Linked DNA regions of Homo sapiens: regions 1, 2 and 4 are each reported to be linked to region 3. The links are microRNA targets in miRTarBase. Many come from high-throughput screens and were not tested one by one. Region 3 holds a microRNA gene; each other region holds the end of a gene's coding sequence.
Evidence for each region. The annotated mature microRNA hsa-miR-5702 reads UGAGUCAGCAACAUAUCCCAUG and lies in region 3 at 4,033-4,054, opposite strand. An mRNA with a match to its seed (bases 2 to 7 or 8) in the 3' UTR can be bound and repressed. Matches are read on the target gene's strand: a 7mer-m8 pairs with bases 2 to 8, a 7mer-A1 pairs with bases 2 to 7 and ends in A, and an 8mer does both.

Region 1 (7,512 bases), not on the chromosome of region 3:
GCACGTACCACCACACCCGGCTAATTTTTCATATTTTTAGTAGAGATGGGGTTTCACCGTGTTAGCCAGGATGGTCTTGATCTCCTGACCTTGTGATCCACCTGCCTCGGCCTCCCAAAGTGCTGGGATTACAGGTGTGAGCCACAGTGCCCAACCGAGAAATACCTTTGTAACCCAAATTCCTATGAAGACAAAAAACATTATCACTCCAGAGAGTTTCTTCATGCTCCTTATCAGTCAGTCTTTTTCACCAACCCCCAGAGACAACCACTGTTCTGGAGGGTTTTTTTCCCTTCCATAAATTAGTTTTGCTTTTCTAGAATTTTATCCAAATGGAACTATGTCAATATGCACTCTAAAGGCTTCTTTCATCAAGTTTATTTCTTTTGCTGAGTAGTATTTCACTGTATGAATGCACTACAGTTTATTTTCCTATTGGCATAGAATTTTAAAAAAATAGAGTGCACAGGTCTTTCTCTTTGGAGGGTAGCATTAATATGGACATGGTTGTATTGAGACCAACAGATATGCACAACCATTTTACTGCTTCTGTCACAACAAACATTAAAACAAAGTTGGGCGTGGTGGCGCATGCCTATAATCCCGGCGCTTTAAGAGGCTGAGGGAGGAGGATTGCTTGAGCCCAGGAGTTCGAGACCAGCCTGGACAACATGGCGAGACCCCATCTCTACAAAAAATACAAAAATAGCTGAGTGTGGTGATGCGTGCCTGTAGTCTCAGCTTCCCGGGAGGCTGGGGCAGGAGGATTGCTTGAGCTAAGGAGGTTCAGTCTGCAGTGAGCCATCATCGTTCCATTGCACTCCAGCCTGGGCAACAGAGTGAGACTCTATTTCAAAAATTAAAAGAAAATAAATAAAAATTATTGCTTTTAAAAATGCACAGAAATGTTCTGGCTTCTGGTTCTAAAGTATTTATCCCTTCATCTAAGAATAATCTCATGAAAAATATATTCAAAAGGGAAGTAGAAATCTTTTCCCCTGTGTTTCCTGAAGAATCAATTACTTCTTTTTTATTTTTCTGAACAGAACCATACTCTTGGTGATATTAGCAATTTTTAAAAATCTGAACTCAGTTCAGGTACAAGTGGAAAATTACGAGAGTAGACTTATTGTATTTCTTTTCCCCTTGAGTGGTTTTCTGTTTCATCAAAATGACCATAAATCGAATACTTCATCTTATGTTTATGCTTTAACTTTTGTAAATGATGCTTCAATGAATATCTTTGCATGGTCCTGTATGTTTTTGCATCTGATTATTTCTTTTTAATAGATTTTAAAGTGTTACTGTTAGGCCAGAGGGTTATGAACATTTAAGGTTAATACATACTTGCTAAATTGCTTACCAAAAAGGTAAGCAACAGTACATAGGAATAGTCATGTGCCGTTGTCAATTCTTGTTATTTTAAAGGTAGAAACAAGACGAAATGGAGAACGCGTGGTATCCCTTGGATATACTTGTTTAGGAAAGAACTAAGTTTTTTCAGAGTATATGGAGTTGAGCTCATTTCAGTGTTAGCATTATGCAAGATGTGACCCTTCCCTTTTTAGCACGAAGCCAATCAAGAAATGAGATAGCGTAGAGTTTGGTCATGCATTTTTTGCCACAAATGCGACTAGGTATTTATAGGGTGTGTTTCTGAGTTTCTGCTCTGATTTGTAAACTGGGTTCTTGTTTTTTATTACCCAGCCTGAAGAAAGTTCGTGGCAAAGTCTGGAAGCAAAGAATATCTAGCCCTCTGTTCAACACCAAACAATACACAATGGAACTAGAGCGGCTCTATCTACAGATGTGGGAGCATTATGCAGCTGGCAACAAACCTGACCACATGATTAAGCCTGTTGAAGTCACTGAGTCAGCATAAATAAAGACTGCACAGGAGAATTACCCCTATACCTGAGCCTCAACCTTCTGGGGGAAAGGGAACTAGATAACATACTTCTTACTTGTCTGTACAGTACCTTGTTGCAGATGGGTGATATATAATGGTAATAGAATAGCACAGCCAGACTTGCTTCCTGCATGGTAGGGAGAGACACAAAAGATGGGAAACTGCTTTTCCACAAGGAATCTCCGTAGAATTTTGCGGCGACCAGATGGTGCATAGGTCTGGAAGGTCTGATCTCCCTTGGTCTTCCATGGGATGGTTAGTGTGGAGGGGAGATATAGATTGTCCGGCCGCTTTGTGATTCCATGGATTGATTCAGTCTTCTGGATTTTTTTTTCTTTATATTTTGGGTACTGGAGCTTTTAAAAATGTTTGGTTTCAGGTATTTTTATTCATGTGAAGTGTATATGATTCTCTTGAGATAAGGTTTTAAGCTAAAATGTTACTCCCTGTTTTAGTTTCTGAACTCTGACAGATTGACAGGGACTTTGCTGGTGTAGTCTTTTTATAGGTTTTATAAACCACTTGAGCCTATATCAGTCGTTTTAGTGTCTGACCTAATATTTGGAGCTATCAGTGCTTTGTTGATTTAGATGATGACTCAAGATTTTTTCTGGTCCATTTCCCATTTCCTTTTCTTCCCTGACCCCCATACCCTCACCCTTAAAATTCTCCTGTAACTCAACTAACAAAATCAAGCCTGATTCAAAACATCCTAGGGTGTTTTAAACACACCATCTGGTGCCAAATGAAGATTTTTAGGAGTGATTACTAATTATCAAGGGCACAGTTGTGGTACTGTCATTGATAATAATATAGTTTTTTTTTTTTTCCTAATTTTGACCTGTTTCACCAGTGTTTTACCCTTGACTGCCCCTTCTATGCTGCTTCCAAAAGTGATAGTGTGTGTAAGATTTTTACCTTCCTTTCTAAAGTTTTTTTTTTTTTTTTTTAAGTGAGTCCTGTTCTTCCTATTTCTTTCAGCAGAAATGAAATCCCAGGTAAGTATAAGTATTCAAGTATTTGATCAGTAAGTCACAGTTATCTCCAGTGCATTAAATAACCTTCATCAAGAAATAGGTTATAGGTAAAATCTCTGAAGGATCATCTATGTATTCAAGTAATTATTTTTTAGATAATAACTGTCTTCTGGACTTGGTCTTGAAGTCTGTACAGATTCAGCCTCAGTAGTAGCGAACTGCACTGCTGTTTGGTTTGGAGTACAAATTAGACTTATAGTCCTCCTGGAACTTGAGTTATTAAAATCATAGGAATAAAATTATGGGATCTCAACAAAGGGTCGAGGGTTTGAGGCTTAAACAAGCCAACATATGAATATATGTTTTGTCTCGCTATACTGCACTTACGCTATCCAGTTGCAGGTAATTTTTTGTCTGCTAGTAGTGTTCTAGATTATGTCTTTCCAAAGCGCTGAGGCTGTGCACCTATTCTGTAGTTGCAGCTGATGCCTGAATGTATCCTAGCTGACAAATTATTGATTAATAAGAACTTGAATTTCTGGAAGATTCTTACTGTTAACCAAATTTTGAGCAAGGAGTCTCAAAGGTAATTCTGAACCAGAATTACATGTTAATGAACAGTGTACCTTTTAACAGTGTAAATCACGGAATATCCGTGAAGGGATTTCTTAATTTATTTTTTACCGGTTGATTGAAATATCAGTTAAAGGTTGCCAGCATGGTTGCAGATAAACTGATGTTTGAAATTCGCTGAAATACTTAATGTGGAATAGGATAATATACTTCCAATGCCCTCAAGGCTGTGACCTTACAGCCATTTTACATAGCACATCATTCCTCCTATAGGGATGAACTTTTTCCTGGCACGAAAAGTAGCCGCTCTGGTTGAAGCTTTGCTTATTGTAACAGGCTTTTATTTCCAGGTAATATGTCTTGGAAGACTTAATTCTGATTAGAGATATAGATATTACTGGAAACTAATTGTTTTTTTTCTATTGTACTCTGCTTTATCAAAGAAGTAAAACATTTAAATCGTACTACAGAAATTAAGATGTTGTCTTGCGATCCTTAATAAATGAATGATTTCCCTTTAATACGGCTGATGTATTTTGTATCCTGTTATATTGAGTGTTGGACTGAAGAATAGTGTCATCCAATGATGAAACCTATATTTAAACACCTCCAAACAGCATGAAAGGACCAAATTTCCCTACTGTAGCTATGATATTAGGAATTGTTTTCTCAGCCAGGTCTGGTAGAGGGTGGGGTTAGTTTATGATCCATTAAGAAGGCAAAGTGGCCTTGTGTGGTGGCTCACGCCTGTAACCCCAGCACTTTGGGAGGCGGAGGCAGGTGGATCACTTGAGGTCAGGAGTTCAAGACCAGCCTGGCTAACATGGTGAAACCCTGTCTCTACTAAAAATACAAAAAAACTAGCCGGGAGTGGTGGCACACGCTTGTAATCCCAACTACATGCGAGGCTGAGACAGGAGAATCGCTTGAACCCGGGAGGCAGAGGTTGCAGTGAGCTGAGATCGTGCCATTGCATTCCAGCCTGGACAACAGAGTGAGATGTCATCTCAAAAAAAAAAAAAGACAAAGCCTGTGATCCCCAACACACCCATTCATGCTTGCTCCTCTTTTGCTTGTGACCTCTCTGCTTTCATTTACCCTTGTAGTCTCGGTTTTCATGTGGACCATTCTTTTCTTGGCTCTTGGGGGCAAAATTATTTTCCTTCCTGCTCTGTATAGTGGTCGAACTCTGCCACAAGCATCAGGGAGGAAGATATCAATTCATGATTGATATCATGAATTGATATCATGGCAAATGCTGTTTGCCAGTTTTCTCAGATATGAGAGGGAAGATTTTTTTCAGTAAAATTTTGCATGATTTAATTCCCAACTTCTTAAAGCCCTCATGTGGATTGGTGTTTGTTTCCTAAAAGATTATTATGGGAAGAAAGCCTACTCAAAAGTTTTTACTCCCATTCGCTTCTCTTGAAAAATCTACATTATTTCCAGTCTACTTCAGCTCCTCCTGCCTTCAATCTAAAGGAGTTGCTTGCACACCTTGAGTAAATGTGTGTAATTTCTGAACTGCCCATTTTAAGATTTGATTCCAAACCTATCCCATTCTTTTACTTGAAGCATATGCCTCTCAATTATAGCTAACATCCTGGTTCTTTGCCCAAGCCTCTGAGGCACAGTTATGTAATCCCCATTCTTATAAAGAGGCTTGTAGAGGTTAATTTGCAACTTCATTGTAGAGAGAGAGAGTAATCAGCCCCCTTTATCCAATTTTTTTATCAACTGAGAAAGTATCTGTATTTAGGTAGGCAATCTGGTGCTTAAGAGCAGGTTTTGGAACTAGAGTTGGAGTTTGAATCTCAGCTCTGCCACTTTTTTTTTTTTTTTTGAGATGGAGTCTCGCCCTGTCCCCATGCTGGAGTGCAATGGCACGATCTCGGCTCACTGCAACCTCCGCCTCCCAGGTTCCAGCGATTCTCCTGCCTCAGCCTCCCGAGTAGCTGGGATTACAGGCGCGGGCCACCACACGCGGCTATTTTTTTTTTTTTATCTTTAGTAGAGACGGGGTTTCACCATGTTGACCAGGCTGGTCTCAAGCTCCTGACTTCGTGATCCACCCGCCTCAGCCTCCCAAAGTGCTGGGGTTACAGGCGTGAGCCACTGTGCCCGGCCAGCTCTGCCACTTTCTAGCTGTGTGATCTCTAAAATGAGAGTGCTAACAGTTGCCTACTTTTTAAAGTGTTGTATGAATTAAGTCGTAAGACACTTGGAATAATGCTTAGCACAAAATAGTATCAAACGCAGGGACATTTTATGTGTGTTCTGTTACCCAAAGGCATACATTACGAAATATATAGATGCTCGCTGGAGAAACTGGCACAATCTAGAAAGCGCTGTTTTCCCCGTTTGTTTTTCTTGGTGTGTATGGAGTGAGTGCCAAAAAGCCTCAAGTAACCTTTTTTTATCTCCAGGGTTTGGAGGGTTCTGGAAGTAAACATCATAGTTCGCCGTTGCCAGGCGCTGTTGAGTTGCTGCCTTGCTCTTATCTAGGGGTCTAGATGGCCTTCCCTGCAACCCCCGCCCCCCTGCGCTCCCGCGTCCCCCCGCGCCCCGCCCTCCCCTCGGTGTTCCCGTCCACGCCCCTGCTCCCGCGCCTTCGCTCCAGTTCTCGTGCCCCCGCCCCTCCCCCCGCGCCCTTTCCCAGTGGTTGCAATAACGGACTTAGAGGTCTGGACAATTCAAGTAAGGAACAAGGCTCGCTTATCCAAGTTCTCGCAGGATAAAAGTTTGTTATGAACGATTTCACATGGTTTCTCTTTATCAGAAAGTTGTTAGGGACTTTTAATCGCAGAATTGGCCTCGGGTGCCCACGCTCTAGTATTGAAATGGCGGTTTTGGGACAAATAAGCAACATCCGTGGGAGTGGAAAGCGACAGACCTGATCCCGGAAGCGTTACAGCTAGGCGCCAAGTTCACAGGCGCGAAGTTCAAATTTGTCTTGTGACCACTGTGATAGGTGGGTACAGGGGAGCGCGGGCGAGCACACGTGAATTACTGCTACCGCCCCCTAGGTCCGGGCACTATAAAGGGGCCTGCGCCTGGCGTTGTTCATCGCAGTTGCTCCGGATCTTTGCACACACTCCACGGGCAGTTGGAGGTGAGCTGCTGCCGGCCACGCCAGAGGCTGCAACACCAGGTAGGTGACCGGCTGGTCGGACTGAGATGGGTGCTGAAGTGGTCCAGAGGTTAATCCTAATTGAGTGACTTAATTAAAATCAGGACCACTGTATACCTTGGACTCTGGTTGCCCGTGTAGGCCTGAGGTGGGAGTAGAGGAAGTGGCAGCGAGGGGAGAAGTGGAGGCGCCAGTGGTAGCATTGGGGGAGGTGGGGGCGCCCATGGTGGTGTAGGAAACATATGGTGGCGCCAGTGGCGGCATTGGGAGGGGTGGGGGCGCCGGTGGCGGCGTAGGAGCAGCTGGTAGTGCCAGTGGCGGCGTGGGGAGAAGGGGCGCTGGTGGCGTCATTGCAGATAGTGGGGGGCCTGGTGGTGGCGTAGAAGGAGGTGTTGGTGCCAGTGGCGGGTGGAGAGAAGTAGGGGCACCAGTGGCGGCGTTGGGGGAAGTGGGGGTGCCTGTGGCAGTGTCGGGGAAGTGGGGGTGCTGGTGGTGGTGTAGGAGCATGTGGTAGCACCAGTGACGGTGTGGGGAGAAGTAGGGGCACCATTGGCGGCCTTGGGGGAAGTGGGAGCGCTGGTGGTGGCGTAGGAGCGTGTGGTGGCGCCAGTGGCTATGTAGGAATACGTGGCGCCGGTGGCGGCGCGGGGAGAAGTGAGGGCGCTGGTTGCGGCACTGGGGGGAGGTGGGGGCCCCAGTGGTGGTGTAGGAACAGGTGGTGTCCCTAGTGGCGGGTGGGGAGAAGTAGGGATGCCAGTGGCAGCGTGGGGGGAGGTGGGGGTGCCAGTTGCGGCCTAGGAGTACTTGGTGGCGTTGGTGGCATAGGAGCACATAGTAGCGCTGGCGGTGTGGGGAGAAGTGGAGGCGCCGGTGGCCGCATTGAAGGTGGGGGTGCCAATGGGGGCGTTGAGGGAAGTGGGGGG
Region 2 (7,576 bases), not on the chromosome of region 3:
AAAAAACTTACTGGGAGAACAGAGACTTAGTAAAATTTCTATTGCTACAGACAAATGCTAAAAACCAGCTTTATAATAACAGCATTATAAAGGATAGAACTTAATATAGAACCAGAAATATGGCAAGTTACCTAGTGATTAACATTGTAAAATAGTCAAAAACTTTAAAGCCACAGAGAAAGGAAAACAATTATGAAATGGAAAATATATAATATTTAAGTACTTTTATAATTCTAAAACTTCACTTTTGTCCTTAAATCAATATATTACGGATTTCATTGTTCAATAAATTACCATCTTTAATTAAAAATAAGTAAATCAAAGAGCATATTTGGAGAAACTAAGAGCTGTTAACTGTTTGGAGGGTAAAAGAATACTTTTCTCGAAATTTTTTTGAAGAAAAATCTAAAAGCCCTCTATGTTGAGTTAATACACCTTCTGACCCCCATCATCAGTGGCATTATTCTTCCAAGGGACTCTTATATCTAAGCAATGGTGAAGTTCTGGATTCATTATGGATCTCATGGCACCAAACCAACTGGCACTGAAGTTAAGTTAATATACTCCAGCGAGATCACCTGTGGGTCAAGGATGGCCCAGAGAATCTTGGAAAATCCATTTATATTGAGCAAAGATCTGAATCACCTTCAATCAGGCTGTAAGATACTAGAAAATTTGACCTTGTAGTAGTATTTCCCAGGGTAACTTAAGCAGCAACCTTGCACCAGAAGAAGAATTAAAGAGGGAGCAATCTAGTATTATCAACAACAACAAAGTTAACCCTAAGTTAGTACATCCCAGAATCTGCTGGATGTATAATAATTTAGTAACGGGGTATATGGCAGAGCTTTCTTTGATGTTAACAAATTTTGGCTGTGATTCTTAGTTACCAAGTTGCCAAAAAATGGTATATTAAATGAACTGCCAAATGGCAGATTAAGAAAATTAATGTACTCCAATGGTCTGTCCATGAAAGGAAAATGTACACAGACAAATTAAGAACATTTTACCAGGATCTGAGATTTAAACAATGGAACAATTGTTTTAACTGTTAGAATGACCCCAACTGTTAAGTTTGTCTATGAGTGTATATGTATATATAAATTCATACACATATATTATTTATTTCCTTCTTAAAAAGACTGAGGCAGTTCTGCTATATATAGTTAGCTACAATATTCAAGATAAAACAGTTCCTACTCAAAAAATTACATGAACACACGAGATAAGTTCTTATCGTAAATGCTATCATGAGGCTATCTAGTATAGCTCATATTTCCTGGTTGTAAGGCTCAAAACACAGGAATTCCACTCCAAGAGATAATTTGCCCCTCAATCCCTACAAAGTGTAGTCTAAACAAACAAAATGGTAATAAAAAATTGAAAAGGAAGATATAAAAAGAACTCAATAGCAGGATTCTGACTACCTCTGGAGACCACACACTATCATTATTCTGACTGTCTTAAATACAACAATCCAATATGCCCCAAGATGGAAATCTGGTATCGTAGGGAAAACATTGGCTGCAACTGTCAGAAAAGTTCATAATCTTAAACATAATTTATGCCATTTGCCAGTCACAAAGACATTTACTGAACAGAATTTTTGAGCCATTTGTAAAATTAAAATGATTGATCAATTTGAATAGCAACCTTCATGATGAAGAAATTAGGACTCTAGGTATGAAAAGCATGTTCCTTTTTTGTTAATAAGTTCAAAGGAGAGAAACATTCTGATATATGCAGATAAAAATATGGCTAGGCTGGGCGCGGTGGCTCATGCCTGTAATCCCAGCACTTTGGGAAGCCGAGGTGGACAGATCACGAGGTCAGGAGATCGAGACCATCCTGGCCAACACGGTGAAACCCCGTCTCTACTAAAAATACAAAAAATTAGCCGAGTGTGGTGGTGGGCGCCTGTAGTCCCAGCTACTTGGGAGGCTGAGGCAGAAGCATGGCGTGAACCCGGGAGGCGGAGCTTGCAGTGAACCAAGATCGCACCACTGCACTCCAGGTTGGGCAACAGAGCGAGACTCCCTCTCAAAAAAAAAAAAAAAAAACAAAAAACAAGGCTAACAAGAAAGAGGATAACCAGCAAGTACCACCTGGATGTGTGTTGTCAGGTAGAAAGGAAGAATAAAATTCAGGCAATGAATATAATAGATTTAGCAAAGTAAAGCATATGAAAGGAAGAAATGTTTGATATGTCTAAGTATCAATGCCTTCGATCAGAGTAAGAAAAAAGTATTCATTGTTCATGTCCACAGACTAGATATCTAAAGAGATACTTGGTGGGCAGGGGCTTGGGAGGGAAGGCGCAAATTGGAATGTTCAGCTTTTAAAGTAAAGACTGTACATGAAGACATATTTTATGTACAGTGAAGATTGTCTTGTGTTACTTTATATCCCAACATAAACCTACGCCACCCTCAGACGAAGAGGGTATCTAACACTGAATAAATGCTGAACCTATTTAGTAGTTAAAGAAAAAAGAGAAGGATCTTAAAGGTATATATGGGAAGCTTTTAAGAGGTAGAGAAACCAACTGGGTATATATTTTCTTTTATTTGATTTCAACTAGCAAGAGACTAAGACTGATGTTTGTTTGTTTGTTTTACCTTCAAAGTCTTAGTCTTAAATTGACAAGGGCACAAAAAAAGTGAAATTAAAATAATTTTAACAAAAGGGAAAGCATTTGACAGTGTTTAAAAGACAGACAAATCAAGCAAAACTCAATGTGGCTTAAGGTAAAAAATACAACTAGGTATTAAACAATTTGTAAAAACTTACAAAGAAAATTTAGCTTTCAAGAAAAATTAGGCAGATTTCCTTCTGCCAAAGTGACAGGTCCTGAGGAAAAAAAACACAACCTCTACAAGACCAAGCACAGCTCAAGGGTCAGGGCCCCGTCCTAGTCATCTTTTTATTATTCAATATCCATCACAGTGGCTGGGCAAACAACAGGCATCAATAAATGTTTACTAACTGAATGTGTATTATAAGGTATAATCGGTATAACTGATATAGCTCAAATCTAATCATGAAAGCTTCTTTAAAGTAGGATAAAAAGAGCACAATCAGCGGTATTCCAGAAGGTAGGCCTAAATCCAGTTATATTTTTCTAATCGTTGACCAGTGGTTATAAAGACTTTCTGAGCTTCTTTTTAAAGCAATGAAACTCTTTCCAAAAGAAACCCCATGCAGTTCTTCAGTACAGAATAAATATGCCACTAAGTCAGTGAGAACTCCAACAGCCTCCCCTAAGCCAGCCCCCAAGGTGTCTCTGTGGAACCTACTGGAAAAAATATTACTCATCTTAGAAATGTGATAGAAAGCATGGCCATTCGGTTCTCAGGTCATCATTCCTAGAAAATTAACAGTATTGTGAAGAATAAATCCTAAGTAATGTTGCTAATTTAAATAAAGACAAAAATTCAACAAAGAGGGGATTCTATCACTTAGAAAAATGAAAACCACACCTATAAATGGGGGGAGGGGCAGAAAACAAAAAAAAAATCAGGCCACAGTAGATAAAATACAAAAAACATCATCTCGTTAAAAAGCATCAAACACATTCACACAAATGTAATTACAACCAGGAAGTAAACTGCTCAACAGGTATAACTGCTCAATAGGTGTTTTCAAAGAGTTGAGTCCCAATTTCATACTGTACAGAAAAATCGCATCAGAACTGTAGAGATGCGCTCCACTACTGAAACAGCATAGTAGGCACTGCTTGACCTAACACAGTAATGCAAGAGTAACCACCAAGATCAGGACCTTCTACCACTTTCAGAGTTGTTTTCTGCCCCTACAACTGTTCCCTAACACCATTACAAGTTCTCAAGTAAGAAAAAGAAGGGCAGAGGCTCCACTGAGTATCTCCTACAGGCCTGATAGTGGTATTACCTAGGACATTTACTCTGCTCACAAGATGGGTAGTGGAAGACATAATTACTGGACAGCACAAAGTCTGGAAGCAAGCAGCAGGGCACTAAAACAGTGAGAGCTTACACAACAAAAGCTTGTTAAATTAAGTAGTACTGATGTGGTGCAAATGAAATTTTTACAGCAAAGGTTGAGGAAGGAGATATGTTAGTGAGAATCACATGAAGCAGACTATCACAAAATAAGGCCACCTTCAAAATGTTATGAACTGTAGAACCATTCTGATCTTCAAGTTTGGATTTGTATAGAGGTTTCTGTATAAAGCATTAATACCTAATCAGGAGTTTCCTTTAGTGTGAACCTTTTTGCATTTGATGCTATTCTCTTTGCCAGGAATGCTTATCTCCCCTGGCTCCTCACTTGGCTTGCTTCTTTAATGTCAGGTGTTAGCTCATGCATCCTTTCCTTAGAGGCTTTCCTTGATGTCCTACCTGAAGCATCCCATCTGTTATTCTCCAGTACAGTACCCTGTTTATCTCCTTCATAGACAAGTAAGATAATTAAGGGTTAGTGTAACTGCTGTCTCAGCAAAGGCAGGAACTGTAGTTGTCTTGTTCACCTTTACCCAAAGACTAAGAAAAGTTCCTGGTACAAACAGGTGAACAATAAATATTTGTTGAATGAATAAAAAATTACTATACCAAATTTACATGAACACATACATATACACACAAATATAGGAAAATGGGGAGTACCCAATAGAAAACCACCAAATGTTGAAAGTATTGAAAATGATACCTATAGAGACAGGTGGATATGATTTCAAAGAACAAGTACCAAAGACAGCTTCAAAAATATGAAAATTTATGAAAAGACGACCAGGAGTGGTTATTTTCCATTTCTACTAAGATGCAAACAAGAAGAAATGTTTAAACTGCAATGAGTCAACATCAGACATAATAATTATTTGCTGCAGAATGAACTAGCAACAGAGTTTCGGAAATCTCCTCTCACTACAGAGCATGAAATATTGTCAATCACAAAACCAGGATCAGTTAAGAACAGCTCAGACTGCAGGTAACTTATAAGCTAAAAAACTTGCTAAATAAATGGCTTTTCCCCCAATTTTTAAAATTCTGAATTCATAATTATGTGTAGAATAACAATCAATTTATAAACTGAATACAACATACTTTAAAAACAGATGGCCCATATCTGCTGATCCTACCTCAGCATCACTTTTCTAGGTATTTTGCAGAAACAATTACATTTACAAAAGGCCCATTTCATAATGCAATCTGGTTACTAAACCAAATCAAACTACTCGAAGAGCAGAAGGTCTGCTGTTGAAATATTGTAAAATACCTTTGGAAAAACGGTATTTATAGATTAGCTTTTTTAAAAAGGGATAAATATGTGGAAGTAATTCTAGCATATCCCTGAAAATAATTATACTGCCACCTATGCATTTTTTATGAGGTGGAAGGATAAATCAACAGACTGCTAGATTATACAAGCCAATTATTCCTGTTGAAATTTGGGCATAAGACAAAGGGACTTTCTCCATATGAATTCTTACTGTATCCCAGAATTAACTGGTGCCAGCAGTATCAATGCAACTATTACTGGTGATGATGTCATGTTATGCTGTTTTGATTATGAGGACAAAAATGGGAATGGAAAAAAGAGGCTTGGAAAGGTTTTCAGTATGGTTTCCTTATAATAAGATTTAGCAGTTAAAAAAAAAAACAAAAAAAAACAAAAAACCACAAAAAGAATGACTGTTTAAGCCCCACTGAACACATTAAGGTCAAGGATTTCAAAAGTTAATCCACTTTTCTTCCCCCAAGAGTTTATTTTTGGTAAAAGGCAGAAAAATTAGTTTTTCTACAGGAAAATCTGCTTCTAAATAATTTGAAAATCTTGATATATATTATATATTAAAAAAGACACACAAAAATAACAGAGAAGTGGGAATAACAGATTAGGTACTGCAACTTTATAAAGGTTTGCCTAGATCAAGAAGCAGCGCACACACACACCTCATCTATGCAAACTAAAAATGTATATAAACAGCACAATACTGTGATACTGGATCATGATACATTACCTGTACACATAACTACTACTGTTATTAATAAACCTTTGGGACACTCAGTTTTATGCCCAATAAGACATCATTAAGTCTTTAAAATCTTCTCTTCCTCTTTAATGGGAGAGTATTTCTAGACACTAATTTTCCCATCTAATATTCAAATATAGGAAACAGATTCCACAAGGTGCTTTAATTGATGAGACCTCAAGTGCTGTTTTCTCTCTTGAACTTTTGGATAGTAAACAGTCCATAGGGACCACACACAATGCTATGACAGAAGAGTTGTTACATTAAGTCTTTTCATGGGACTTGATTGGTGAAGCTTTATGACATGCTTGAGCAACGCACTGAAGGGGATCCCATCTGAGTTAATACTTTGTCCAACCACTGTAGAGGTCCATTCAGATGAAGTTCAATCCAGCAAGGAGTACTTGTTACCGTCTGCCTTCTGTTTAAAAGAATACAGGAAAATGATTATGAAATTCAAGTCCACAGGCAGGGAAAATGGCTATGTTTAGGTACACTGCATTAAAAATTTACAGAAATTAAAAGGTTGTGTATATAATTTTGGACACGATTATTCCGCAAAATGGTTGATCCTCAAAGTCAAAGTACTTCTGATGACCTTGTTTTAGAAGTGATTTACAAGAACATCTTTTTCTCATCGCACTAAAATTAATAAGGTGATCTTATTATTCACCATCATCCAAAATGGAACACCTGAGAGAGAATGTAGATACTATTAATATCAGGCCAGGGCCAGGCGTGGTGGCTCACACCTGTAAGCCCAGCACTTTGGGAGGCCGAGGCAGGCGGATCACAAGGTCAAGAGATTGAGACCATCCTGGCCAACATGGTGAAACCCCGTCTCTACTAAAAATATAAAAATTAGCTGGGCGTGGTGGCGTGTGCCTGTAGTCCCAGCTACTCGGGAGGCTGAGACAGGAGAGTCACTTGAACCCAAGAGGCAGAGGCTGCAGTGAGCCGAGATCATGCCACTGCACTCTAGCCTGGCGACAGAGTGAGACTCTGTCTCGGGGTGGGGGGCAGAAAAAAATCAGGCCAAAAGGAGACACGTGAATCAGGATTGTCCAAGCAAACCAAGACATAAAGTAACTGTACTTACCAAATCAACCACAGAATAGTAGATACTCAAATATCAAACAGAATCTAAGTAAAAGTATACCAAAGCAAAAACAAAATTTTGGCCCAAGCTAAACCCACACCACAGAGAGTGTTAAAAGCTGGAATTCAACTTTCCCTGCCAAAGCCAATGAACATCCCTCTTAGCAACACCATTCGGGCTTTTAATAGTGCTTCAACAAAAGGGGCAACTCTAAGAGAATTACAAATTATTCAATGACATCCTGTCACTTCCATGCGCTGATTTTAGTTCCATCTTATTTGCTATACAGAATAAAGTCAATAAATCCACTTGCTTCTACAAACTAACAGCCCTTCAAATATGAGAAAAGCCCATTATCAACTCTTCATCTCCAAGCAACACATGTTCAATGTAATTTAAAACTGTACTTCCAAGGATGTCACTTTCTGAGGCAGATGGTATCAGTGCCCCACTGTACCCTTTGGATT
Region 3 (7,576 bases):
TTTGGCTGTTTGTGCTTTGTTTTGCTTTTGCCTAAAATGGTTAAACACCTCGAGTTCAACTGTGAGATGTGCACCTGTGCTATCTATCAACAAACACTCTCAATGTGGAACTTCTCTGGGAATCTTCCAGAAATCCAGTCCACAAGATCCAGTGTGCAAAGAAGCTCTGTCATTGGAACCTGATAGCAGAAATGCTAGGAGTAAACTCATGGTGACCAATCAGTTTGTCCAGTTTGCTCAAGTACCTCTTGCAATGACTAGAAAGTTTGCACAGGTACCAGAGAAATACATTACTAGAGAAAGACATTTCAGTGGTGGGCTTTGGTTTGTTATTGTGTTGGCTTTGCGACTTTTCAACCTGGATCAATTGAACTACAATCCCCAGAATTCTCTTTCTAGTCTGTTTCTGGCTAGCATGGCCTACAAAGAATATCCTTTCCTGGAAGGAGGATGGAAAGGGGGCAGCAGCCATATTATAGCATGTACCTACCTTCTCCTAGTGATTCAGCAAACTCTTATCCAGGTGCCAGTGTGAAGGGATCTTGCAGGTGTAATTAAGTTCCCTACTCAGTTGACTTTAAGTTAATTAATAGGGAAGTCCTGTTGATCAAGATGGAAGTCCTTTAATCAGTAGAAAGGCCTAGACCTTCCCTGAGTTGAAAGATTCCACATTCCAGCTCATGCTTCTGGGGTTCTGGCATGCTCATTACTTCCCTTCTGACCATCTTCCCTATGGACCCCAGGCCTGCTTAACCAGTCCCCACAATTGCATAAACCAATTTGTTGTGATAAATCTCACACCAGTTCTGCTTCTCTGGTTGAACCCTGACTGATATAATTGTCATCTGAAAATAACAAGAATATATTCAAGTTTGCCATTTGGATCTTCCACAAAACCATGGGCCCCTACAAAGTATAGTGGGGAAACCACAGACTCTGGGGCCACATGGCCTGCACCTTCTCCCAGCATCTTTCTTCACCAGCCAAGTGACTTTGGGCTACTAAGTCTCATAACCTCTCTGAGCACTGTCTTTTTACTTGTAAAATAGTATCAATACTAAGTCCAAGCCTACCAACTTCCCAGGGTTGTTTTGAAAAATCAAAGGAGATATCGTATGTGGAAGCACTTTGTAACCTGCCATACAAATGAGGGGTGTTTAGTTTTAAGATCACCTAGCCTAGCATTTTTAGTTAGGGGAGGCAGAGAAATAATAAACATTTACTCATGTCCACTGTGTATAGGAAATATGAATATATACTCCAATGCAGTCTTCTAGACTTTCTCATGAGGCAGACAGTGTTTGCCCCACGTGAGAGATGAGAAAACTGAAGTTCTAAGAAGTTGGCTAACTTCCCTAGATCACAGAATATGATTTGCAGTCCAGTGTGAAAATGGTTCTTACAACACCAAAGTCCAGGCTGTGTGGCCATGCCAACCTCCTTCACAAAAGAAGGACATTTCTTTGCATGTGACACCATGATAGTCATGCTAACTCCTAAAAAACTTTCAAGACATACTTTCAGTATCTCTTTGGAATTTACTAGTTTAATTGAGGAGCAAATAATCTATTTTGATTAGTGAAGAAGTTATTTCATCTAATATGCTCTGAGTCACAACACTTAAGAAACCAATAGAAGACAAAACATTTTTTGCTTTTTATATCCAGCAAATTTTCTTTTCCTAATTTACAATAAAACTATTCCAAGAATAATGAAAGCGAAACTGTATTATTTACTGATTTTGATTGCCCCAGTCTTTAAGTACTCAGAAAAGACACTTTACTGTTTGTGCGCACAGGGAAATTATTGTGGTTAGAGGTTAAAGCTATGCAAAAACAAACAAAAAAATTAATGTGCATTTTCCTCAAAAATTTAAAGCAGCCAGAATAATTTATGGGTTAGGCGTTTTCTGAGAGTTAATGATCAACTGTCTGAAAAGTCCTTGAGACAGTTAGTTGGTAAATGGCCAGGAAGTCCCTTCCACTGAGAGCTGAGGATTTCGAGACATTTGTTATGCAAAAATAGAACCTGAAATAAGCAAATATATATCATAGAGACTGGGATTTTTTCAGATCACTCTATTACATATAAAATTAATTCTACTCAAAATAACTGTAAAAATACAGGTAGAAAACATAAAATATTTATTAAATACCCACCAATTATTATGCTTGGCATTTTAAATCACTTTTCTCCTAATTCTCACAAAATTTTCATATTTATTAACCCCATTTTGATGAAGAGGAAACTGTCAGTTCATGGACTCACATAGCTATTAATAGTAAGAGCAAAGCTGGGATTCATACCCAGTTCCAGTCAAAGTACTTGCAGTTTCTACTTTTTGCATACCTGTAGCCTTTTATTTAAATGATTCTCTATTGTAATTATAAAATAAGAAAGAGTTCTATTTTAATAAATACTGTGTTAACCTTACAACTTGGCTCAAAAACAAAATGGAACACAATGTGCAAAAATAAAATCATTAATGCTATTTAAAGCTTTGTGAAACTAATTCATCTATCACAGAATTTAAATTTTTATTACTTTTCATGTGGGGGCCAAAGAATTTTAGTTACTTCTTATTTCATGGGCTTCTCATAGTGCAATCGCTGATGGTAGGGACCTTGTTTTTACCCTAAACTCTATATTAAACTCGGATTAAACTAAAGTTGTCAACACACAGTAAGTGCTCAATAATTATTGGTGAATGAATGCAATCTTACGTATGCCTGGTGCTTTGAAACTTACAAATCACTTTCACTCATTATTGATTGTGACTACGACAAGAAGGCTGTGTATGAGTTAGTGACAATCATTGTTAGCATCACTTTAGAGATAAGAAAATTGAAATGTAGAATAAGTTGAGTAACCTGCTCAAAGCCTCTTGGATTTGACTGTAAATCAAGGTCTCTTGAGTACAAAGAACAAAGTTTTTGTCCTACTACAAACACTCCCCCATTAAGGAATATCAATTTTTGTTAATGTTTGACAAAACTATGCCTCTTATTTAAATAAAACACTGAAATGAACAGACCCGCATGATACCAAACTGCATGTTAGAGTTTGAGGTCACCAGTTTATTTGAATTGCTTGAATGTGCTTTTATCATACTGACCATCTTACAAGGTAGATCAGCTGTTGCCAACCATGATATTGGGTCAGCAGAGTATTGATGCATCTGAGATCAACACATGAGAAAGGAGAGGATTTGGAGCTGGAAATTGCAGAATTATCCATGCAGCAACTTGGTATGAGCGGCCATTACCAACAGGAAGGATAGCCATTAACGGCATCCATGGGGGAGAAGGTGAGGAACTAGTGAACTAGAATGATTATCAAAATGCCAAAACAAAGAAAAGATAAATAATGGAGGTGATGAATATCCCGATTATCCTGATTTGATCATTACACATTATACACATATATCAAACAACAAAAACAAATGGAGTGATGAATATCACATGTATCAAAATCACATATATCCCAAAATATGTACTACTATAGATTATTTTTTATAAAGGCCCAAACAGTGAGAATTGCATTTACTTGGTTAACTATGTGTTGACATGGCCTTTTTTGAGATTTTATATTTAGATCATTTTGATAAAATTGCATCATTTTTAAGAAAAACTTTTATGTGCTTATGTAACATCAAGTTTGCAAAACTACAGTCATAGTAAAAGCAATACAAGCCAAAAACTAAATGTATGAGTGTGTGTATGTGCAGCTCTTATAATATGGAGTACATTGAAATTAAAATATTTAAAGGGATTCATTTCCACTGGAGCTATCCCCATGTGTGAAAATAAACACATTTTCTTCTCAATTACCCATGGTATTATTGGCTCTCCACAAACACTTGAAGAGCTTGACTAAGCCAAGTTATGTACTACTCAATGCTTTTTAGCAGTCTCTCTTAAACTTTTTTTACTTCCATCTAATCCCTGGTCATAGCCTCTGGGAAATTCAACACTATGGAGAAAGGGCCATTTGCTTTGTGGTCTTACATAAAAGAAGTTATCACCCAAAAGTCATGGGATATGTTGCTGACTCAACCTACAGAAGGATTTCAGGTTGGATCAGCAACATATCCCAGGAGTTGAGGCCGCCAAACCTCCTCTTAAGGCCAAGTCACAGCAAGTTTACTGAGACAACTGGAGAGATACCTGTAATGACTGCTGGAACTCACTCCAAAACCAACATCTATAAAAAGAAACTTCTCTTGAATCTCCGGTCCAAATCATCAAACCTATGTGTTTTCCTAACAGGAAACAGAGAAGAAACCACTTTTCCTCTTCACTCTGGCCTCTATTGAGAAAGAATCCAACTTCTGAATATTCAGGAAAAGAAAGTGCTTTTTGGTGTGACAACGTAAGCAACTCTCTAAGTCCCTAAGGAGCAGGAAATGTGTAGAGAATAGCCACCTGTGTGTATATTACCTCTTTCCAGCCACTCTTTTTTGTTAGCCAGCAGCCAGGTTGCAAGTACATAGTCTGTACTTATCTGTGCACCATTTGAGGACCACCAGATAATTAAGTCACACTCACATTGAGATATTTCTCCTCTGTCTCCATCCTCAGTTCCCCTACATCAGCCTGGGTGTAAAAATATCACCACAAAATAGCAGTGGCCCTATCTCCTTGACTGTCACCTCCTCTCATATATCTCTAGCCCCACTGAAAATCCTATCTACTCATTAGTAAGAGTGTTCCCAGGGGTGACCTCAGGTGCACCAGAAACCATCCAATTCCCTCTGTCCTGTCCTTACTGCAGCTATTTCCTACCGTCTTTCCATGAGGCCTCTCTGAACTGTGAGGCTTTGGACAGGGCCTCATTGCCAGCCCTGCTCTGGGCCCCACAACAAGAAAATTGCGCTCCCGGCCAAAGTGTGTGTTCTCTGTGGGGGTCCTGAGGCTATACGGTGGCTTCAGCCACTTCCACTGCCAGCTCCACCTACCAGGCACCGCCCGACACAATGGTCACAGGAATCCCTGGATTCAGTGCCAAAGTGAGAAGAATAGTGACTGTAGTAGTCTAGTAGTCAGGATTCTCCAGAGAAACAGAGAAAATAGGAAAGAGAGAGAGATGAGAAATGTGTGAGTGTGTGTGCATGTATAGTGTGTGTGTGTATATATATTCAGAGAAACAGAACCAATAGAGTGTGTGTGTCTGTGTTTGTGTGTGTCTGTGTGTGTATTATATATGTGTGTGTATGTATATATATATATATATATATATATTCAGAGAAACAGAATCAATAGCGAGAGAGAAATAGAAAGAGAGTGTATGTCTGTGTTTGTGTGTGTCTGTGTGTGTATTTTATACATATATATATATTCAGAGAAACAGAACCAATAGCGAGAGAGAGACAGAAAGGGAAAGTGTGTGTGTGTGTGTGTGTGTGTGTGTGTGTATAAAGAAAGTGGGGTCTGGTGTGCAATTTTAGGGAATTTGGGTAAGTCCCCAATCTGCAGAGTAGGCCGGCAGGCTGGAGACCCAGGGAAGAGATGACACTGCAGAGTTCGGAGGCAGTCTATTGGCAGAATTCTGTCTTCTGTGGGGAGGTCAGTCTTTGTTTTTTTTAAGGCCTTCTACTGGGTAAATGAGACCCATCCATATTATGGAGGGCAATTTGCTTTACTCAGCACTTACTCATTTAAACGTTAATCTCATTTAAAAAATATTTTCGAGGAAACATCCAAATGTTTAACCAAATTTCTGGGTACTGTGTCCCAGACAAGCAGATACATAAAATTACCCATCGCCTTTTTTGTTTGACATTTTAGTAACTCTCCTTTGGGGTCCCACCTCCCTTTTGGTGGGCTTACAGCCCAAACCAGTCATTCTCAACTCCAAAGGACATTTGTGGCAGTCACAGCTGGGGGAAAACTACTTGCATCTAGTGGGTAGAGGCCAGGAATGCTGCAAAATGTCGTCTAATACACAGCCTGGTTCCCAACAACAGAATTTTCCAGTCCCAAATGCCAATAGTAGCATTGCAGCTGAGAAACCCTGCTCCAAATGACCAGTTCACTTCCTGTCTCTAACCCTGTTCATTATTGCTTCATCCTCTCTGGCCTCCTTTCAGGTCACAGAGCATGCCAATTCCTTCCCTCCTTGGGGCCTCTGCAATCATCATTCTCACTGCTTGAAACACTCTGCTCCTTGCAGGGTTGGCTCTTTGTCATCTCTCAAGTTTCACCAAGAAATCCCACCCCCACATGCCCCTAATCCCTGTCAGTTTCATTAACCTGATTATGTCTTCATCACCAGCTGACATTTGCTTGCTTTACCTTGTACATCTGGATCTTGTTCCCCTCAAATATAAGCAGGATGAGTACCTATCACTAGGCTCCAAGGACAAGTGCCAGCCCTGGAACATAGTAGGTGCTCAACAAATAATTAGGGAAGGAAAGGAATTAAGGGAGGAAAGAATGCCTTAGACTTTTTTTTTTTTTTTTTGAGACAGCGTCTCTCTCTGTCACCAGGCTGGAGTGCAGTGGCACGATCTCGGATCACTGCAACCTCCGCCTCCCCGGTTCAGGCGATTCTCCTGCCTCAGCCTCCCGAGTAGCTGGGACTACAGGTGCATGCCACCACGCCCGGCTAATTTTTGTATTTTTAGTAGAGACGGGGTTTCACCATGTTGGCCAGATGGTCTCGATATCTTGACCTCGTGATCCACCTGCCTCAGCCTCCCAAAGTGCTGGGATTACAGGCGTGAGCCACCACGCTCGGCCAGACATTTTTAATGAATGTCACTCTCCCCATGTGTTTCGTTTCCAAACACACACACACACACACACACACACACACACACACACCCCACCAGCTCAAATACGTGTTTATAGGATCCGTTTCCAAAAAGTCACCAAGAGAGTAGTTCCTGTACACTAACCCTGCCCCCAGAATGCTGAGTTGTTTTCTATTGAACTTAGAACACGAACCCAGCCTTTTTCTCAACGACATCCTTCTCCCAAGACACAATGTGGCCCCTCATGCCAACGTGTGTGAACTCTACTCCCCACCCCTTAATCTTCCTAACATGCAGAGATCCCTTAGATTTAAAGTGCAACCCCTGCTATGAATCAATAACTTTAGAAGGACTTACCACAGAAAGAGATTAGCATGAGAAAGCTAAGCAGATATCATCGCAACAGTTCACTTTAAAAATACCACCACTCCTTCTATCTGTGACTACAGATGCCTCCTCACAGAAGTGGGGCAGAGATCATCTAGCCAGAACCAACTAGCAGGTCATCTGCGCCTCCCCCGTCCACGCCAATTCCATTCCCCGCTCTCTCCTCATGTGCTAAGTTCTCCCACGTTCTTACGGTGTCAGCGAAGAATTTATACATGCCTCTAAAGTGACTCACTGCATGAGTATTACTGTTTATTTTTAGCACCTTGTTGTTTTGCCTATAAATCCCTCTAAATGTCATTTCTCACTGCCTGGCCCCTTTCAGGACAATATGGCATGCTCCTCGAAATGTCCTCTCACTGGGTCCCTCTGTTCTCAGTTCTGCCCACAAGGCCACTGCACATGGCTGCCCACGATGGAACTGACCTGCCTCTG
Region 4 (7,548 bases), not on the chromosome of region 3:
GAGAATGACATCTCGAAGTGGAAGCCCTCTCAGAGCCTACCCACCACAAACAGTGGCGTGAGTGCTCAGGATCGGCAGTTGCTGTGCTTCTACTATGACCAATGTGAGACCCATTTCATTTCCCTTCTCAACGCCATTGACGCACTCTTCAGTTGTGTCAGCTCAGCCCAGCCCCCGCGAATCTTCGTGGCACACAGCAAGTTTGTCATCCTCAGTGCACACAAACTGGTGTTCATTGGAGACACGCTGACACGGCAGGTGACTGCCCAGGACATTCGCAACAAAGTCATGAACTCCAGCAACCAGCTCTGCGAGCAGCTCAAGACCATAGTCATGGCAACCAAGATGGCCGCCCTCCATTACCCCAGCACCACGGCCCTGCAGGAAATGGTGCACCAAGTGACAGACCTTTCTAGAAATGCCCAGCTGTTCAAGCGCTCTTTGCTGGAGATGGCAACGTTCTGAGAAGAAAAAAAAGAGGAAGGGGACTGCGTTAACGGTTACTAAGGAAAACTGGAAATACTGTCTGGTTTTTGTAAATGTTATCTATTTTTGTAGATATTTTATATAAAAATGAAATATTTTAACATTTTATGGGTCAGTCAACTTTCAGAAATTCAGGGAGCTGGAGAGGGAAATCTTTTTTTTTCCCCCTGAGTGGTTCTTATGTATACATAGAAGTATCTGAGACATAAACTGTACAGAAAACTTGTCCACGTGCTTTTGTATGCCCATGTATTCATGTTTGTTTGTAGATGTTTGTCTGATGCATTTCATTAAAAAAAAAACCATGAATTACGAAGCACCTTAGTAAGCACCTTCTAATGCTGCATTTTTTTTGTTGTTGTTAAAAACATACCAGCTGGTTATAATATTGTTCTCCACGTCCTTGTGATGATTCTGAGCCTGGCACTCCCAAATCTGGGAAGCATAGTTTATTTGCAAGTGTTCACCTTCCAAATCATGAGGCATAGCATGACTTATTCTTGTTTGGAAAACTCTTTTCAAAACTGACCATCTTAAACACATGATGGCCAAGTGCCCAAAAGCCCTCTTGCGGAGCAAATTTCAGAATATATATGTGGATCCAAGCTCTGATAGTTCAGGTGCTGGAGGGAAGAGAGACCTGTGTGTTTAGAGGCCAGGACCACAGTTAGGATTGGGTTGTTTCAATACTGAGAGACAGCTACAATAAAAGGAGAGCAATTGCCTCCCTGGGGCTGTTCAATCTTCTGCATTTGTGAGTGGTTCAGTCATGAGGTTTTCCAAAAGATGTTTTTAGAGTTGTAAAAACCATATTTGCAGCAAAGATTTACAAAGGCGTATCAGACTATGATTGTTCACCAAAATAGGGGAATGGTTTGATCCGCCAGTTGCAAGTAGAGGCCTTTCTGACTCTTAATATTCACTTTGGTGCTACTACCCCCATTACCTGAGGGAAACTGGCCAGGTCCTTGATCATGGAACTATAGAGCTACCAGGACATATCCTGCTCTCTAAGGGAATTTATTGCTATCTTGCACCTTCTTTAAAACTCACATATGCAGACCTGACACTCAAGAGTGGCTAGCTACACAGAGTCCATCTAATTTTTGCAACTTCCTGTGGCCAGTGTGTATAACCCCTTCCACTATCTCACAGATAGTCACAGCGTCCATTCCATAGTCTGTCTCCTCACATCTGTTAGTATTGACACAGCACAGACACCACAAGCCATCAGGTTCTTCATGGGGCAGGTGAAATACTTCTACCCCATGGGTAAATGTATTCACATATTACCAAGAGAAGAAGCACATTATCTATGATCTTTTGGCCCAGTTCTTATTTAGCATTTTTATTCCAGCCTACTTGGAAACATGTTTTTATTTGCAATATATGCCTGACTGAATTAAGCTTGCTTGTTTTAAACAACCAAATCATTGGAACAGAAAAGGATTTAAAAAACAAGAATGCATGATCTCAGAGTGATTAAAAAAAAATCAGTGGAAATAAATGATCATAGAAGGTGCTTTTCAAAACAACTGCTATTATAATTCTCAAAGTCCTACTCTGCCAAAAGAAGATTAAAAGTCATACATTACATTACAAGGAAATGTTCATGTGGGAAGAGGGTTGCTGAAAATCAACAACGCTTGAAGTTAAAAAGTGTGTCTTTGTAGATTTCATTGTATAATGTGTATTTCTTAGGAGATGGCTGACTTGATTGATCTACGCTAAGTGGAGACATTTCACATTTTTAAAACCAAATGTTCAATCTGTATTACTCTTTGCCGTCTTGTATGTAGAGGCTATTTTTAAATCATTAAATTTTTAGATCTCTGTTTTCATAGCCACTGGGTTTTCTTTTTCATACTCCTCTGTCACAGAATTAAATATTGGCTTACTTTGGTACTCCTAATATAAAAAGTTAAATTATGATTATTTTAGCAATGCTATAGGTCTGGATTTTTTTAGGAAAATTGAGGGTTTGGTTTTCTCTGTATATGTGTCACTTCCAAGTGTATTTGCATTCAAAGAAAATTCTAGAATCTGTGAACATTATCAAATTCAAATATCTGGAACAAGACTTGTGTTCACCAAAAAACCCATACACTCAGTAACATATAGGATGATTTGTTTTCATAATATGGATGTTACCAGTCATGTGGTTTTTAGAATCAAAGAAAATTTTTCTATTTGTTTTGGAATAGTCATAAAGAAATAATTTAAAGCAAACTATATTTAATGAAAATAAGAGATTTGTAATCATGTAATTATCATTTTTAATGGTTGGCCCACTCTTTTATTCAGGTATCCCACTGAGATTTACAGACAAATTATTTAAATGTATCATGTACCATTTTGCCCACACATATAAGCATTAATTTATTTTTGACAAAATGTCAAGGCACTTCAAGGAGGGAATGAAAACTCTTCCGAAAAAAAAAGTGGTGCGGGAACAACTAGATCTATGAAATAAAATGAATGTGTACCTTACGTTCTACCCAAAGATTAACCCAAATGGATCATAGACCTAAATGTAAAACTTAAAACTCCTAGAAGAAAACACAGGAGAAAATCTTTGTTATCTTAGGTAGACAAAATTTCCATATTTGAAACACTTTAAAAACTTAACTCAGAAAAAAAATGATTTATTGGACTTTGTCAACATTAAAAACTCTTATTCTTCTGAGGATACCATTAAAAAACCAAAAGTCAAGCCAGAAAATGGGAGAAAATACATCACATCTATCAGCCAAGGACTTACATCAGACTTAGGAGACAAAAAACTAAATTTTTTTAACTCGGCAAAAATTTGGAGAAGAAACTTCATAAAAGAAGACTTATGTAGGTAAATGGAAAAAGTAAATAAACACCACACCAAATAGAATCACTAAAATTAAAAAGACAAATGATACCCTGTGTTGGTGCAAGAAAGGGGAGCAAACATTGCTCTTGTATATCACTGGTAAGAATGTTAAACAGTACAAACACTATGGAAAACAGATTGGCGATTTCCTAAAAAGTTAAACCTATGTCTACCCTATGACCTAGCAATTTCTCTTCTAGGTATTTACCCAGAAGAAATAAAAGCATATGTCCATACAAAGACTTACATAAAAATATTTATAGCAGCTCTATTTGTAATAGCAAAAGCTAGAAAGAACCCAGATGTTTGTTCATCTATATGAATGAATAAAATCACTGCGGTATATCCACACAATGGAATACTACACAGAAATCAAAAGGAAAAATATTGCAACAAATAGCCAACATGAATGAACTTCAAAATCATTATGACGCAAAAAAGAAGCAAGACAAAAAGAATACATATGCTATGTTTCCATTTATACAAAATTTTAGAAAATTCAAACTAACCTATAGGGACAGAAAGCACATAAGTGGTTGCCTAGAGAGAAATGGTGGAAGGAATGGATTCCAAAGAAGTCCATGGAAACTTGGGAATGAAAGCAGTGTCCATTGTCTTGATTGTGGTGATGGTTTCACAGATGTATGCATGCCAAACCTCTTCAGATTGTACACTTTAAATATGTACAGTTTATTCTTTGTTAATTTTTTCAAAGTAAATGGTCTAGGCACTCCCATTAAAAGTTAGAGATTCTCAGCCTGGATTTTAAAATGCAAGACCAACTATATGCTATTTAAAAGATGCTCGCTTGAAATAAAAATACACAGATAAATTAAAAACAAGGGGATAGAAAGAGATGTACCATGTGCATTCTATTTTTTTCTTAAAAAGCCGGAGCAGCTATATTATTAACAGACAGAGTAGAATTCAGAACAAGGGCAAAGAGAGGCATTTCATGATAAAGGGATTAATTCATAAAAAAGACAAAACATTCCTAAATGTGTATGTACCAATCACGAAGTCTCAAAATACATGAAGCAGAAACTGATATAACTGAAAGGACAAATAGAAAATCTATAATGATAGGTAGAGATTTCAATACTTGTCTCTCAGTAATTAATAGAACAAGCAAACAAAACAAAATAAAACCAGTAATAATTGGTAAGAATGGAACTCTCTTCCGTTGCTGATAGGAGTGTAAAATGGTACAATCGTTTTAGAAAATGGTTTGGTAACCTCTAATAAAGTTAAACATATGCTTTCAACATAACCCAGCAATCCCAATCATAGATATTTACCCCCCAAAAAATGAAAACATATATCCATATGAAAAGCTAATTTCTTTATTCATAATTGTGCCAAATAGAAACAACCCAAATGTCATCAACAGGTGAGTAGATAAGTAAATTGTGGTCTATATATACAATGGAATACTATTGAGCAATGAAAAGGAGTGAACAAATTAGACATGTAACAACATGAGCAGATCAACCTCAGAAACATGCTGAATGAAAGCCAGGCAAATAAAGAGGAATTCTGTATGAAGCTCCAGAAGGCAGGAATCTAATCTGTAGTGACAAAAATTAGACCTGTGATTTCCTAAGGCCAGGGGTAGGGGTTGGCGATTATTTGGGAAAGAGCACGAAGGAGCCTTTTGGTAGGATGGATATGTTTTATATCATCACTGTCCAACACTGCAGAACTTTCTGCAATGGTAAAAATGTCTTCCATTTGCACTGTCTAATATGCTGAATAACAGTCACATATGGCTACTGAGGATTTGAAACATACCTAGTACAACTGAGGACGTTTTTCATTTTAATTTTAGCTCATTAGACTTGAAATAGCCACATGTGTTTAGTGGCTATTCTACTGGACAGCACGGTATCTATATCTTGATTGTTGCAGTAATTGTGTGCATGGATAAATTTGTCAAAACTTATTATAAAATACACTAAAAATAGGTGCATTTTATTGTATATAAGCCTTACCTGAATAAAGTTGATTTTAAAAAGAGGCAAAGCATTTCCCAACTAACTCTAATGCTCCAATTTTTCAAGTCAATATTATCAGCAGTTCACAGAAACATTGGCGGTTCCATAGAAAGAGAACAAACCGGAAAGCCAAGCTTCTAAATCCATAGCAGGCTACTGCTTTAGAGTCAATGATACTGAGCTCGTTCATGTCCCACCAGGAAGACAAATGTGGCTTCCTAACCCTGAGTTGGTAAAAGCCTGTCTGGGTTTTAGATGCTTCCCCATAAACCACATCTACATTCTTTATATTTTTGAGGGATTATGACAAAAGAAATATTGTCATTCACCAAAGAACATAAAAAACAACAAGGATTCACTTATTCATTGAACATTTCCTGCCTGGCCGGCCAGAGCAGGCAAATCTGCCCTGCGTATCAATAGAACCCCAGCTGTCTCCGCCAGAGGAGCTGGCCCCACCTCACAGCCAGTGTCTCTGTGTGCTCAGCAACGTGCTGTGGACCAAAGGGACAGGAGAAGAAGGGAGACGTGGATTCTGCCTCCCTTTGTTTGAAATAAAAAGTAAACATGTCCTTTAAACAATTGAAGGCAGATTATAGACAAATGTTTAAGTAATTTACAGGCAAAGACTTTAAAGTAGAGAGAATGAGAAAAATCAAAGTGATCTAGCTGGTGAGAAAGAGCTTTTTGCCAAGGGTGGGGTTGAAGAGGTTGATCATAAAGAAAGGTGTCTTTGTCTGTACTGTGCTGCTATCACAGAATACCAAACACTGGGTAATGTATAAAGAACAGAAATGTATTTCTCACAGTTCTGGAACCTGAGAAGTTCAAGGTTGAGGGCTCACATCCAGTGAGGGCCTTCTTGCTGCATCATCCCATGATGGAAGGTAGAAAGGCAAGAGAGCATGAGAGAGCAAGGGATTGAACCGGCAGCCTCAAGCCCAAAATTTTATAATCCCCATTAACCATGCATGAGGGTGGAGCTCTCCATACTTCCCATTAGGCCCCACCTCCAAATGCTGTTGCAAGGGGGATTACGTTTCCAACACACGCTTTTTGGGAGATACATTCAGACTATACCAGAAAGGCTAACTGGACGGCACAGGAAAGCCTGGCAAAGGCTGGTGGCCAGGACGGCGTGCTGCAGAGATGCAGTGGAGAGTTTAGGTGATGAGGGGCTCTCTAGAATCACACTGCAGCGACTTTGGCTTTGCATTTTGTACCTTCAGAGAATTCATTCAGAATAGACATACCAAATATTCGTTGGCCTAATGAAACTGGGCATTAGATGGCATCATATCCTTTCAAAGAAGAGAAAGGAGAGAAAGCAGGATGGGGAGCCTGGATGAGACAAAGATGATACAGATAGTGAAGACTATGAAAGGATAAAAGGGAGGGGATGGAGAGCAGAGGAGAGGAAAGAGCAGAGGAGAGAGACAGAGAGAAGAAGCAAGAAAGACCCTGACACAGGGTGATTAGAAAAGAGTCAGTGAAACAAGTAACAGACTGCAAGAGATACACAGTATATGCTAAAGCAAAATGCTATGTTCTTAGGTCATCTAGGTTCTCAAGATATAGTCAGAAACAAACAGTCAGTACATATTACTTGAAAACAGGGCTGCATTGTCATTTTGAAAAATACAACATCGTATATCAGTCTCTTGGAGAGACTTAATACTCGTGAGCATGTAAAAGGCTCTAGGCCGGGTTTGGTGGCTCACGCCTGTAATCCCAGCACTTTGGGAGGCTGAGGTGGGTGGATCACCTGAGGTCAGGAGTTCAAGACCAGCCTGGCCAACATGGCAAAACCTCATATCTACTAAAAATACAAAAATTAGCCAGGCTTGGTGGCGGGCGCCTGTAATTCCGGCTACTCGGAAGACTGAGACAGGAGAATCACTTGAACCCGGGAGGCGGAAGTTGCAGTGAGCTGAGATCACGCCACTGCATTCCAGCCTGGGCAACAGAGTGAGACTCTGTCTCAAAAAAAAAAAAAAGAAAAAGAAAAAAAAAGGGCTCCAAGAAGTCTTACAATATAAAAACTTGCCTTGTCTACTACTTCACAAAATTATTTTGACCCTAAAAGCTGTTTTCTCTCTTAACATTTATAAAAACCTGGTCTAGGATATTCAGATAGTTTTCGTTTTCCTCCCCCAACAAAAGGGTGAGGCCCGCCAATGTGACTCAGCTCACAGAATCATTATT

Region 1: miRTarBase lists OGT as a target of hsa-miR-5702. Seed matches in the 3' UTR shown: 7mer-A1 at 2,504-2,510.
Region 2: the mRNA of SMAD2 is a reported target of hsa-miR-5702. Seed matches in the 3' UTR shown: 7mer-A1 at 4,829-4,835.
Region 4: the mRNA of NEDD9 is a reported target of hsa-miR-5702. Seed matches in the 3' UTR shown: 7mer-m8 at 1,392-1,398.

What each region holds. Positions count from the first base shown.
Region 1 is chrX:71,571,913-71,579,424 of GRCh38, forward strand. It overlaps OGT (O-linked N-acetylglucosamine (GlcNAc) transferase), which reads left to right. Exons shown (of 22, transcript NM_181672.3): 22 at 1,708-3,980. The coding sequence ends at 1,882. It overlaps GCNA (germ cell nuclear acidic peptidase), which reads left to right and starts at 6,525. Exons shown (of 13, transcript NM_052957.5): 1 at 6,525-6,610. RefSeq lists an enhancer at 6,732-7,373.
Region 2 is chr18:47,835,520-47,843,095 of GRCh38, forward strand. It overlaps SMAD2 (SMAD family member 2), which reads right to left. Exons shown (of 11, transcript NM_005901.6): 11 at 1-6,431. The coding sequence ends at 6,308. Among named protein-coding and RNA genes, the nearest start is that of SMAD2, 91 kb to the right of the region's middle.
Region 3 is chr2:226,654,688-226,662,263 of GRCh38, forward strand. MIR5702 (microRNA 5702) reads right to left here and starts at 4,106; the gene lies at 4,023-4,106. RefSeq lists a silencer at 1,253-1,453.
Region 4 is chr6:11,178,079-11,185,626 of GRCh38, reverse strand. It overlaps NEDD9 (neural precursor cell expressed, developmentally down-regulated 9), which reads left to right. Exons shown (of 7, transcript NM_006403.4): 7 at 1-2,329. The coding sequence ends at 465. Among named protein-coding and RNA genes, the nearest start is that of NEDD9, 51 kb to the left of the region's middle. RefSeq lists an enhancer at 1-603.